2 linked regions of the Homo sapiens genome follow. The protein of the gene in region 1 interacts with the protein of each later gene in a biochemical or structural test. Each region holds a gene or a part of one and is shown in the gene's direction. Other genes may lie near its edges.

Evidence for each region.
Region 2: the proteins of IL13RA2 (region 1) and CHI3L1 interact in a biophysical measurement, tested with the Homo sapiens proteins (one study listed by IntAct).

Annotation. Positions count from the first base shown.
Region 1 is NC_000023.11:115,014,553-115,021,934, reverse strand, and holds the start of IL13RA2 (interleukin-13 receptor subunit alpha-2 precursor), read left to right. Parts: upstream 1-4,318; 5' UTR 4,319-4,382; intron 4,383-4,632; 5' UTR 4,633-4,665; coding exon 4,666-4,759; intron 4,760-6,113; coding exon 6,114-6,265; intron 6,266-7,360; coding exon 7,361-7,382. UniProt on the Homo sapiens protein: Cell surface receptor that plays a role in the regulation of IL-13-mediated responses. Functions as a decoy receptor that inhibits IL-13- and IL-4-mediated signal transduction via the JAK-STAT pathway and thereby modulates immune responses and inflammation.
Region 2 is NC_000001.11:203,178,411-203,183,778, reverse strand, and holds the end of CHI3L1 (chitinase-3-like protein 1 precursor), read left to right. Parts: coding exon 1-138; intron 139-926; coding exon 927-1,048; intron 1,049-1,474; coding exon of another isoform or gene 1,475-1,682; exon of another isoform or gene 1,683-2,493; coding exon 2,494-2,617; intron 2,618-3,126; coding exon 3,127-3,309; intron 3,310-3,901; coding exon 3,902-4,018; coding exon of another isoform or gene 4,019-4,193; coding exon 4,194-4,334; 3' UTR 4,335-4,848; downstream 4,849-5,368. UniProt on the Homo sapiens protein: Carbohydrate-binding lectin with a preference for chitin. Has no chitinase activity. May play a role in tissue remodeling and in the capacity of cells to respond to and cope with changes in their environment.

The DNA of each region.
Region 1 (7,382 bases):
AGTTATTTTCAAGTGTTGCTTAGTGGCAGTGTCCTCAGAAGCAAACCCCTCTCAAGTATATAGAGCAATTTACTATTCTTCTAGCACTTTCACATACATTATCTTATTTAATCTTCAAGACACCCCTGCCAGGCTTGTATCATTACCTCCATTTTATAGATACAAATTGAGATATAATTTACCTCTTATCACAGTGGTTGAGGCAGGAGTGAAATCCAGATTGATACTTACACCGTTGTGTCTTTTATTATAAAAAGCTCCTCGGCTATGTATCTGTTACTTTATCCAAAGAATAGTTGGTCCTGCCAGCTTTTACAGCACCTTGGTATAATTCCAAATTTGCTTTAGATGGCTTTTGGCCTCACCCATAACTTCCCCATCTTGTGGCTTGTAGAATCTGTGTCCTGGCCCTGTGACTGTTTCAGGAATACCTAACTAATATTTTCTACGTGCTTGATTATTAGGCAGGAAAGTATTAGAGATTCTAATTAATGTCTCTAAAGTAGAGAGGAGAACAAAAGAGGACCTGTGATAACTGCTTACGTTAATCTATTTCTTGAGAAACCATATGATTGGTAAGTACCTGGAATTTCTCCAATAATGCAAAGATTGCAGCCAGCTGTTAAAGTGAGAGTATTATGTTGCATGACTTTGAAGCGGTGGAGAAGCGAGGCCGAGAAGAGGCAATCACTTTAGGTTTGCCATTCCAAAGGAGATTCTCAGTGAGAAACTATCTCAAAAGTGTTGTGTAAAACTGAGTGGGTAGAAATAGAAAGCTCCCCTCCACATTGATCTTAGGCATGGAAAATACCTAGTGTAGTGATTACCATCAAGGGCTCTGGTACTAGATTGTCTAGATTTAAATCCAAGTTTCACCATTTATGGTGTGTGACTTGAGGGAAGCCATTTGACTTCTGTATGTCATAGTTTCTGGTCTTTAAAAAGTTAATCTCATAGAGTAGAGAGTAGAATAGAAGTTACCAGAGGCTGGGGAGGGAATAAGGGAGCCGGGATGGGGAAAGGTTGGTGAATGGGTACAATGTTACAGTTAGATAAGAGGAATACATTCTGATTTCTATTGCACAGTAAGGTGAGTATAGCTAACAATAATGAATTGTATTTTTCAAAAGCTAGAAGAAAGGAATTTGAATGTTTTTACCACAAAGAACTGATAAATGTTTGAGGTGATGTATATGCTAATTACCGTGATTTGATCATTACACAACGTTATCCATGTATCAAAACATTACACTGTACCCCACAAATATGTACAATCATTATGTATCAATTAAAAATTAAAGTTAAAAAGAAAATTTAAACAAATAACATAGAACTAAAAATAGTATATATGTCCAAGTCTGATTGTGAGGATTATATGAGATAATGCATATAAATTGCATAGCACAGGGCAGTGCCTGAGATGTTGAATAAATACTAGAAGGTACTATTACTATGACAGATACTATGACTGTTGCCACTTTCACTTTGTGTCTTCTGCAAGATTTAGCTGGGATAGTATCTGGCAAAAAACTTCCAAAGATGCTCAATAAATATTTATTGAATTATTACTCTGTCAGAAATGTCATAATGATAAAACTGTGTGGTGGGCTGGATGGTTTGGGTGGTGACAGTAGGTAGAGGAAGGTTGGGAGTTAGGAAGAGGCTTCTAGTAAAATAGGTGCAGGATAGATTCATTATGATAAGAACATTTATTTGCTAGTTAGTGGAAAGGGTTCAGGAGATATGGTTTTCAATCCCAGCTCTGCCACCAATAAGTTGTGTACACTTGGCTTACTTACCTTCCTCTCTGGCTGTTATTTCCTTATTTTTAAAAATGAGGAGCTAAGACCAGATGAGTGGTTATGAACTGTGGTCTGGGGGTCTGAAATATAGAAAAACAACTTTTTCAAATCTAATATGTCTGCATTTGCTTTTCTAATCTTCCCTTTGTCTTCAGGTCCCCCTGGTCCTTGTGAAAAACTCCGGTGTTCCTGGTAACCACATAGTGTATAAAGCCCCTCATTGCACTAGTGACAATCCTGTAACCCAGAAGCAAAGGAGAGAATTGTCTTTGTGTTCATTTGGGTAAGAAAGTCTTGGTTGGGCCCTAGGTGTAATTCAGCAACTCCTTTTGTGGGTTTATCCATAAGTGATGCTAGAAGCTAGTTATCCCATTTTCCACCTTTGCTTGGGTATATTGATCAGTCTGATCCATGAAATGCTATTTGATAGCCTGAGTCAGATTTCATAGCCTATAAATGGAATAGAAGCAAATGATTTTAAACTCTTTACTTAGCATTTATGCTGTACATGACATAATGCTACGAAATCTTAAAGGACAGATCGATAGGGGAGAGAGAATTTTGTTAGAATCTCTCTGAGAGCATTGTAAGGGCAGCCTGATTGCCCTTAGTCCTTAAAGGTAATATGGAAGGTTTTCTCTTTGTCAGACCTATTGCCCTGATCCCAGTAGTAACCAGTGTGTTCATCTTAATCTCTGAGGGTAGCTCTGTGGAAGATCCATAACCTTCTGTTAGCCAAATCTACCTAGTACTTACAGATGCATTAGTGGGCAGCCATTGGCTGGCAAGTAAAGAGAGAGGAATTGGGGAGAAAGAGAGATTTGTTGGGCCTCAGTGAGAGAAATGACATTCTCTCCTGATTTTATGAGGCGCAGAATTTTTAAAATAACATGGTGTTGATTCAGCTTGGTTTGCTAATTAAAGGAAGATTTAAACACTGGGGTTCCAGAGGAAAAGCGTTCATAATCCTGAGTCATGCCTGTGGGACCCAGCAGAATGGGGTGGAAGTGCACAGGACTGGGCATCATGAGATCTCTGTTCTACTTCCAGCTTTGTTACTAATTTGCTGTGTAATCTTGGGTGGGGCAAGTCTGAGTTTTACTGCCCAATTTATAAAAGAGAATTTGACTAGCCTTGTCTGTAATATACATACTGGTTCTAAAAATTTGATCCTAAGATTCTATAAAGTAGCCATTGAGGCTTACCAAAGTTACAATATTACAGATGGATCAGGTAGGGGGAAGAGGGTGGGGTGGAAGAGAGGGTCTGTCCTATTGAATTAATCTATGCACAAGAAAAGAAGGGCAGTCCCTTCTTTTCTTTTGAGTGACTTTTAATCCTTTACTTTATGTGAAATTGTTGGTTCCAGAATATAGATTCGAAGAGAAGTGTATGGAATTGGGAGTAGTAGTTTTTCCTGAAAAGCAAAGTATTTTTAATTGAGTAGCTATTTGAAGGCATGAATCCTTTAAATTTTGATCATATCCGTCAAGAACCAATATCCAAGAACAGAAAGATGACTAAATTGTATTCTATGGCAATGAAATGCTGTTTTAGTTTAAGAAAGAGATGAAAAGTTCAGATTTGCCCTTTAGAAAGGTCACTCTTGCTGTATATGGTGTGGAAAATGGATCAGAGGCAGGAAAGACTGAATAAGGAGATCCCTGCTAAGATCCTCCATTTAGGAAGTGGTAGTGGTAATGGAGAGATTAGATGGGAGAGGAGTTGAGGAAGACTCCCAGGTTTCTGGTTTGGGCAACTGGAAGGATGGCGATGCCATTTACTAATAAAGGAAACACAGGAAAAAGTGGAACAATAATGAGAGTAGATGGAAATAAAAAATTTTAATTAAAAGAAGTAATTAAAAGAAAAAAGGAGCAAAGAAGAAAGTCAATCGTCCAGCAGGGGGCGAAAGAGCTAAATAAACACTTTTTTTAAACTAAAAAAAGAAATATTTATGAGGAAACAGAGCAAAGTTTTGAACTCTCTGAGGCTTCGGTTTAGGTTCTGAGCTTTCTCAGTGGTCAAATAACTTTCTATTTTATTTTATTTTATTTTATTTATTTATTTAGAGACAGTCTCGCTCTATTGCCCAGGCTGGAGTGCAATGGTGGGATCTTGGCTCACTGCAATCTCCGCCTCCCGGGTTCAAGCCATTCTCCTGCCTCGGCCTTCCGAATAGCTGGGATTACAGGCGCCCGCCACCATGCCTGGCTAATTGTGCATTTTTAGTAGAGAAAGGATTTCACCATGTTGGCCAGGCTGTCTCAAACTCCTGACTTCAGGTGATCCACCCGCCTCAGCCTCCGAAAGTGCTGGGATTACAGGCATGAGCCACCATGCCCGGCCGAAATAACTTTCAAATACTTTTTTCTTTTTCTTTTTTCTTTTTTTCCCCTCAGAAAAGAGTATTTGACTGTGTTTTATGTGTTGCTAGGGGAGACGGTTGCTATGGAGATGGATGATATCATAACTCCATTGTGAACCAGTAAGAACACTCTCGTGAGTCTAACGGTCTTCCGGATGAAGGCTATTTGAAGTCGCCATAACCTGGTCAGAAGTGTGCCTGTCGGCGGGGAGGTGAGGAGCTACAAGGGTTTTTGCTTAGCTTTGTTTTTATTCTTGTAAGCAGGATGAGACTAGAATCCTTTCTTTCCAATTATATTGGTTCCTAACTTGATTATTTCTGTTTCCATGGTCTGAGGTGGACACAGTTTTCCCAGTTCTTGGTAGAGAAGCACACAGAGAGCTTTCCAAAGTATTTTTAATCACGTTTAGTTTGATTATTTGATGTAAGATAAAGTTAAAATGTTATATTTTTCCTTCATAGAGAGGCAATATCAAGGTTTTAAATCTCGGAGAAATGGCTTTCGTTTGCTTGGCTATCGGATGCTTATATACCTTTCTGATAAGCACAACATTTGGCTGTACTTCATCTTCAGACACCGAGATAAAAGGTAAATGGATTTTAATGGAATAGTTTTTAAATTAGGAAAAGTAAAATTAAATGGATTTTAATGGAAAATTAACTGTCTTTTTGACCTGCCTTATGGAAGTGCATAACTAACTAGTAGATGAATTGTTATTGAAACTATTTCAGGAAGTTCATGAAAAAAAGCTATGTTCTTACTAGTCACTTTCTTGTATAAGGTAACTGATGTTGACACACATTTTGTGCGATAAATGCCAAATTAAAAACACTCTCCATACCTTTTTGTATAGTCTTTTTTAACAGATTAAGTATCTGAAACCTCATTGCCTGGTACTAAACTAACTGGAACAGTTCCTTAATTACTATCCTTAGCTACTATCCTTAGCTTTTATGACAATTAGATACATTAAAAAGGTACAGAAATTTAACGTAAAATTTAAAAATAATTAGAATTATTTAATTTTTCAATTATATTATATTATTTAATATAATGTTAATGTTTTATTATTAATTAATTAAAATTATTTATAGTATATTATTATATTATATATTATATTATAATTAATATAATTAAATACATATATTTATATTATAGTGATATGTTAGTTATTATTTGTTATTATTTGTTGTTCTTATTTGTTATTGTTATTGTTAGACAGATTTTTGTAATAAAATGTTCCCATCTTAGACCAAATTCTGGCGTACATGAGCACAGAGATAAAGCCACATTGAATTTTTTGCTTCTCTAAAAATTAATACCTAGTGAGGCAAAGTCACATTTTGCATATGTGATTTCTCAAAGAAGGAACAACTATATAGCAGTAATCTAGATTTTTTTAACAGCCTTACTGAGATATAATTTACACAAAACTAACTCTTTATACAAAACTATATTCTTTAAAACTATACATGTATAGTAAAACTCTTTACTATACGTTGGTTTTTAGTATATTCACAAAGTTGTGCAACAATCACCACTATCAAAGTCCAGAATAGTTGCATCACCCGTAAAACAGCCCCTAAACCCATTAAGCAGTCACCCTGCATTGTTTCTCCCTCCAGCCCCTACCAACCACGAATCTACTTTCTCTCTCTATGAATTTGTCTATTTTGAAATTTCATAGAAATGGAACTATGTCAATATGTGGTCTTTTGTGTCTGGCTTCTTTCAGTTAGTATAATGTTCTCAAGGTTCATCCATGTTGTAGCATGAATCAGTACTTCATGTCTTTTTATGGCTGAATAATATTTGATTGTATGCATGTAGCACATTTTGTTTATCTGTTAATCAATTGGTGCACATTTGGAAGCCATCTAGATTTAGCAATATTTGTCATAAAATACAGAAAAAATAAAAGTGTTTTATTGATTTATTTCAGTTAACCCTCCTCAGGATTTTGAGATAGTGGATCCCGGATACTTAGGTTATCTCTATTTGCAATGGCAACCCCCACTGTCTCTGGATCATTTTAAGGAATGCACAGTGGAATATGAACTAAAATACCGAAACATTGGTAGTGAAACATGGAAGGTAAGTAAAGCATGCATTTGCCGTATCAGAGTGATCATCAGGTGTTACTTTGTGATTCCTGACTTTAGTGTCCGCTCCAATTCCCATATCTCAATAGTTCTAATTAGGATATAAAAAGCTTCCACACCCGCTTCTGTCTCCTATGCATCCTGCTATATCTGTTTTCACCCCATCCAGTGTTAAGATTGCCATTGGAAGAACAAGAAAAAAAACAAAAACAAAAACAAAAAACTCGGTCTCGTGCAATATGAACTTGAAGAGCAGCACTTCACTAGAAGAGCATTTCACTGTATTTTACAATTGCTTATATTCTTGGATGTGGGCCTTATACATGCTACTGACCTGTGACCTTTTCTACTGTAGGAGACAAGGCTTATTTATCTTTGTACCCTTCCCACAGAGGGTCGCAGGATTATGGTTCGTTGTATATATTGTAGTAAGAGCTCAATGAAAATGTTTTGAATTATTAACTACTTATATACTCAACAAGCATGTATATTCAAAGATTTCTGTTGTAGATGACATTCTGTTACCTCTCTAATTCAGCTAGGTAGTTTCAAGAGACAATTCAAATTGAGCATTTATTGATCAACTTTGTGCTGGGCACTCTACTAGGTATCAGGAATATATGAATAAATAATAAATGATTTTTGTCCTCCAGAAGCTCATGATTTGTCTGTATTTTTCTGGTTACTTCCAGGGTTTTAGTTTATGTATTTCTTGAAGGTTTCATATTATATTTTGAAATGTGGCATGATTTGCCAAGTAATGTGCCTATGGTATATGAAAATTATCTATTTGATTCCAAGCAGATATAGCTCAAGTTTCTGCCATAAAGTTTTTTTTCCCTTCCAAAAGTTTTTGTTTTTATTTGGAATTAGATGTTAAGATTCAAATGATCTCATAAAATGATATGACATACAGAGGTGAGCTCTGCTGGAAATGTATCTGTGGCATTGTATCAAATAGTCTCTAGGATTGTCTTAGATATTGGGAACTCTCCAGGGTATTAATGATTTATTAGTCTTATTAATATAGCTCACTATACCATGGAGGTTTCTAAGCTTGACTTTGTCTCATCTTTTTGTCAAACAGACCATCATTACTAAGAATCTAC
Region 2 (5,368 bases), on another chromosome or scaffold:
GCCTCCAACACCCAGAGTCGCCGGACTTTCATCAAGTCAGTACCGCCATTTCTGCGCACCCATGGCTTTGATGGGCTGGACCTTGCCTGGCTCTACCCTGGACGGAGAGACAAACAGCATTTTACCACCCTAATCAAGGTGCTGGTCAGGTCAGGGACAGGGAGGGAGGTGGGCAGGCATGAGGGAATGGGGTGGGCTAGAAGCCGGCGTCAGCTGCTGTCCTCCTGAGGACAGGTAAAGAGGGACTTCAGCCTCAGGGCAGTGTCCTGGGACCCTGTGCCCTGAAGATCTCACATAGCAAGGAAGGCTTCTTGTGACCATGGTGGGAGGTGGGAATGGGGTTCTAAGAGGTGGAAGGTTGTGACTGAGCAGAGCACCCACTTATAACTACCCACTTAGTGCATTGCCCATTGCCCACCCTTCAATCCCATACTGATGCCACCCATACCCAGCATGCACTGTGTCCAGCAGCTCTCAGCTCTGCCTGGGGGCAGCCTAAGTATCTCCAGTTACCAGGGGCAGAAGGAGAGTCTAAACAAATTGTTCACAATACCAGCAGCAATCACTTTAACTTTGGGATTTCATGCACCAGCTAGAACAAAGCACAGACCGAAAGGCAAATGTCTCCCAAAGTCATCTGTGGGCCAATAGGGGTCACCCACTGTCCGATGCTCCCTCCAGGACAGGGAGTAATTGAGTGCTGATGGGTGTGCATGGGTTTGGGGAGAAGATTAGTCAGTTTTTTAGGAAAAGGATGGGTGACTTGAGGATGGGACCACTGATGAGCCACTTTATCACTTCCACTAGGCCCCAGGCAGGTTGGGGAGTACAGCAAATGGGTTGCGCAGAGACCTAGTCCGCCCTCGATGAGTCTACCTCTCATGCCACTTGGGACCCTTTCTCTCACCTGCCTGTCTCCCATCTAGGAAATGAAGGCCGAATTTATAAAGGAAGCCCAGCCAGGGAAAAAGCAGCTCCTGCTCAGCGCAGCACTGTCTGCGGGGAAGGTCACCATTGACAGCAGCTATGACATTGCCAAGATATCCCAGTGAGTCTCCTGCCCCAGGCAGCCTCCCCAGAACCTCTGCCAACACTCCTGTTTCCCCGCCACCCCCAGCCCTAGCACTCCATGTAGACTGAGGACACTGGGCTTCCAGTCCCAGTTCTTCCAAAGCCTTGATGTGTGACCTTGAGCAAGTCACTTCCCTGCCCTGTGCCTCAGTTTCCCCATCTGTCAAATGAGGCATAACAATCCTTGCCTTTCCTTTTTCACCTGGGCTGTTGGCTGAGCAGTTGAGAGAGCTGCTATGAAAGTATTTTGGAAAGGGAAGTGGAAAAAGCTATTCAAACCCTCCAGCTATTGCAGAGTATTTTCTCCACACCAGGCAGAGCAGAGTGCTGGGCCCTGGAGAGGCCACACAGCAGCCTCTTTCTAGAGTGCTGGGGAGTCCTCAAGGCTCTCTCATACACACAGGCCTCCCCCTTTCCTGTTGGCCCCACGCCTCATCCTCACCCCACCCCTCATGCCTGTGAGGAACAAGGAACAGCCAAGCAGCCTCATCTCTCCTGAGAGCAGAGCCATGGGTCTCGGGAAACCCAGGAGTAAGGAACAAAGACTCTTCAAAATGACTTCAGAGCTTTCTTTAGGATCCCAGGGAGGTGTAAACTCAGTGCTTAATTAAATGGATTCTTTAGAGGGTGGGAAACAGGTGGATGTCAACCATTTGCCCCACATACCCGTATTCATGCAATCCACCCCCAGTGGGCTCACCGGTGCGGGTGTGCAAAACCTCCTCCCACCCCAGTCATCTTAGGTTCAGGTCATCCTTTGGTCCTGCTCTTTCCCCGCCAGGCTGTCTGTTGATGCTACTTTTAATCTGCTTTCACTAAGATAAGCCTGGCAGAAGTGGTGGGGGTAAGGTGGGCTGTAGGCCAGCTCCCAAATGTGTGCTGGGCATAACAGAAGACCCATTCTTGACTGAAGTGCCCTTGTGGGACCCTGAGCCCGTGCCCTGGAGTGGCACAGGGAGGTGTGCCAGCAATGGGGACCGAGGTCACTGGGGACTGCTGGGGTTCGGGCTAGTGGCCTGTCTGGCTGCTGTCTGCTTCCCTCGTTCACATCCTGCTGGAGCCTTAAATAGGAGCCCAAAAGCTTTTCTTTCTTACTTTTTTTTGAGACAAAATCTCACTCTGTTGCCCAGGCCGGAGTGCAGTGGCACAACCTCTGCCGCCTGGGTTCAAGCGATTCTCCTGCCTCAGCCTCCCGAGTAGCTGGGATTACAGGTGCCTGCCACCATGCCTGGCTAATTTTCGTAGTTAGAGTAGAGACGGGGTTTCACCATCTTGGCCAGGCTGGTCTTGAACTCCTCACCTCATGATCCACCTGCCTCGGCCTCCCAAAGTGCTGGGATTCCAGGTATGAGCCACCACGCCCGGCCTAAAGCTTTTCTATTAATAATTTCCTGCCTCACCCTCCATCCCCTTCCTCCTCAGACACCTGGATTTCATTAGCATCATGACCTACGATTTTCATGGAGCCTGGCGTGGGACCACAGGCCATCACAGTCCCCTGTTCCGAGGTCAGGAGGATGCAAGTCCTGACAGATTCAGCAACACTGTGAGTTCCCAGAAGGAGGGAGGGCCAGGAGGGGGCCGCAAGACCTGCCATCTGCCAGTGCTCACACACCAATCTCTCTAGCCCTCAGTACAGTCCTGCAAGAGGGGGGTCATGAGGCCCATTCCACAGATAAGGAAACTGAGGCCCAAAGTCTGGGCATGCTGCGTTGCTCTGGGAAGGTGATCTGCAGGGTAAATGGAGTGAGGGCAGGGGGCCGAATGGGGAGAGGCTGGGAGCCGAGGAGGTAGGAGTCATTGTGCCCTCAGAGCCAACCACCTGATTTCTGCATCTGTCAAATAGTAATAGCCCCTTCCTATGCCTCAAAGGATTTTTTTCAAGAATGAAACTGTAAAATTCACTTTAAAGTGACATGATCCGTTCCCGGAGGGACAGGGGAATCCCCAGTGCACCATACACCAATAACCCCTGCTAAGGCAGCAGTATTAATTGCTCAACCTTCCGCACCTGTGCACTAACTGCTCACGTTGTTCCCACCCTACCCCACCCAGGACTATGCTGTGGGGTACATGTTGAGGCTGGGGGCTCCTGCCAGTAAGCTGGTGATGGGCATCCCCACCTTCGGGAGGAGCTTCACTCTGGCTTCTTCTGAGACTGGTGTTGGAGCCCCAATCTCAGGACCGGGAATTCCAGGCCGGTTCACCAAGGAGGCAGGGACCCTTGCCTACTATGAGGTAATGGAGTTGGGGAGAAGGTAGGATTCCCCCACACCACCAGCAGCCCTGGGGAAGGTGATTCCCCACCACGTTCTTGCTTTTTCTCCTTTGGGAATAAAGAAAATGTCCGGTTGCCCCAGCATGCCTGAGGAAGTGGAAGGGAGAGGTTAGGACATTTGTTGCTGAAAATCTCCAGCAGGTACAGGCACATGGGCCTGCACCACTAGGCACCTGGGATAGCCCTCTGGCTATGGGGCTGAGGTCTTCCTTCCAGCCCAGGAAAGAGCAGAGGTCAAGAGGCAGATTTTTTGTTTCACTCTAGCCTCTGCTACTCTGTGTGGCCTTGGGCCTGTCCTCAGTGTCAACCAGCAGGCCTCACATCTCTGTTTAAATGGAAGAAGCTAAGCAGGGCCAAGGCAGCCACCATCTCTGGGTCATTTGCCTCTGGTTTGTATAAACTTGTGTGATGCATGCAGCCTGCAGACCCTGCAGAGAGTGAGGCTGCAGGATGGAGCAGGAGCTAAAAGAGATTTGGAGAGTGGCGTCTCCTGGTGACCTGCAAGGTCTCGGCACGACTCCCCACACTGCCTTTTCCCTGTTATCTGCTCAGATCTGTGACTTCCTCCGCGGAGCCACAGTCCATAGAATCCTCGGCCAGCAGGTCCCCTATGCCACCAAGGGCAACCAGTGGGTAGGATACGACGACCAGGAAAGCGTCAAAAGCAAGGTAGGTTTCCCCAAGGCCACACCTCAGGACAAAGAGAAAGAAGGAGGCCCCGCTCCCAGCAGCCAGATTCCTGTCCCTTGCACTGAGGTCTGGGCTGGGCTCACAGAGCACATGTGCCCTGTACACACTCTGGGTCAGGGAACCCAGCCCTGCTCCTCTGGGCCTCCCCTGCCAGGTGCAGTACCTGAAGGACAGGCAGCTGGCGGGCGCCATGGTATGGGCCCTGGACCTGGATGACTTCCAGGGCTCCTTCTGTGGCCAGGATCTGCGCTTCCCTCTCACCAATGCCATCAAGGATGCACTCGCTGCAACGTAGCCCTCTGTTCTGCACACAGCACGGGGGCCAAGGATGCCCCGTCCCCCTCTGGCTCCAGCTGGCCGGGAGCCTGATCACCTGCCCTGCTGAGTCCCAGGCTGAGCCTCAGTCTCCCTCCCTTGGGGCCTATGCAGAGGTCCACAACACACAGATTTGAGCTCAGCCCTGGTGGGCAGAGAGGTAGGGATGGGGCTGTGGGGATAGTGAGGCATCGCAATGTAAGACTCGGGATTAGTACACACTTGTTGATTAATGGAAATGTTTACAGATCCCCAAGCCTGGCAAGGGAATTTCTTCAACTCCCTGCCCCCCAGCCCTCCTTATCAAAGGACACCATTTTGGCAAGCTCTATCACCAAGGAGCCAAACATCCTACAAGACACAGTGACCATACTAATTATACCCCCTGCAAAGCCCAGCTTGAAACCTTCACTTAGGAACGTAATCGTGTCCCCTATCCTACTTCCCCTTCCTAATTCCACAGCTGCTCAATAAAGTACAAGAGCTTAACAGTGTGTTGGCGCTTTGCTTTGGTCTATCTTTGAGCGCCCACTAGACCCACTGGACTCACCTCCCCCATCTCTTCTGGGTTCCTTCCTCTGAGCCTTGGGACCCCTGAGCTTGCAGAGATGAGGCCGCCATGTCCTCTGCCTAGCCGCAGAGAGCCCCAGTGGGAGGCCAGCGTCCTCAGATTCACCTGCCTTGGACTTAACCCAAGCATGGCTGATGGCCTTCCAAATATTAAAGTCATTGCCATCCAGATTTCTAAATTAAATTCCCTGTTGAAAGAAACGTTTTCTGTTTCCTGAAGGCTAGCAGGCCCTGGGAAAGAAGGCTTTTCATCCCAACACTCCCTCTCTTCTGATCCACAGGAAGGTGGTGGGAGCTCATCACAGGACCAGGTTAGAAAGCCCTGAACCCTGGACCCTCAGGGCCAGCAGGAAATGCAGATGTCATCTCATGCACCCTTCCTGCCTCTCGGGACTGGAGTCCCTGCAGAGTGCTTGAGAGATGGCCCTCCAGCCTCCCAGTGAG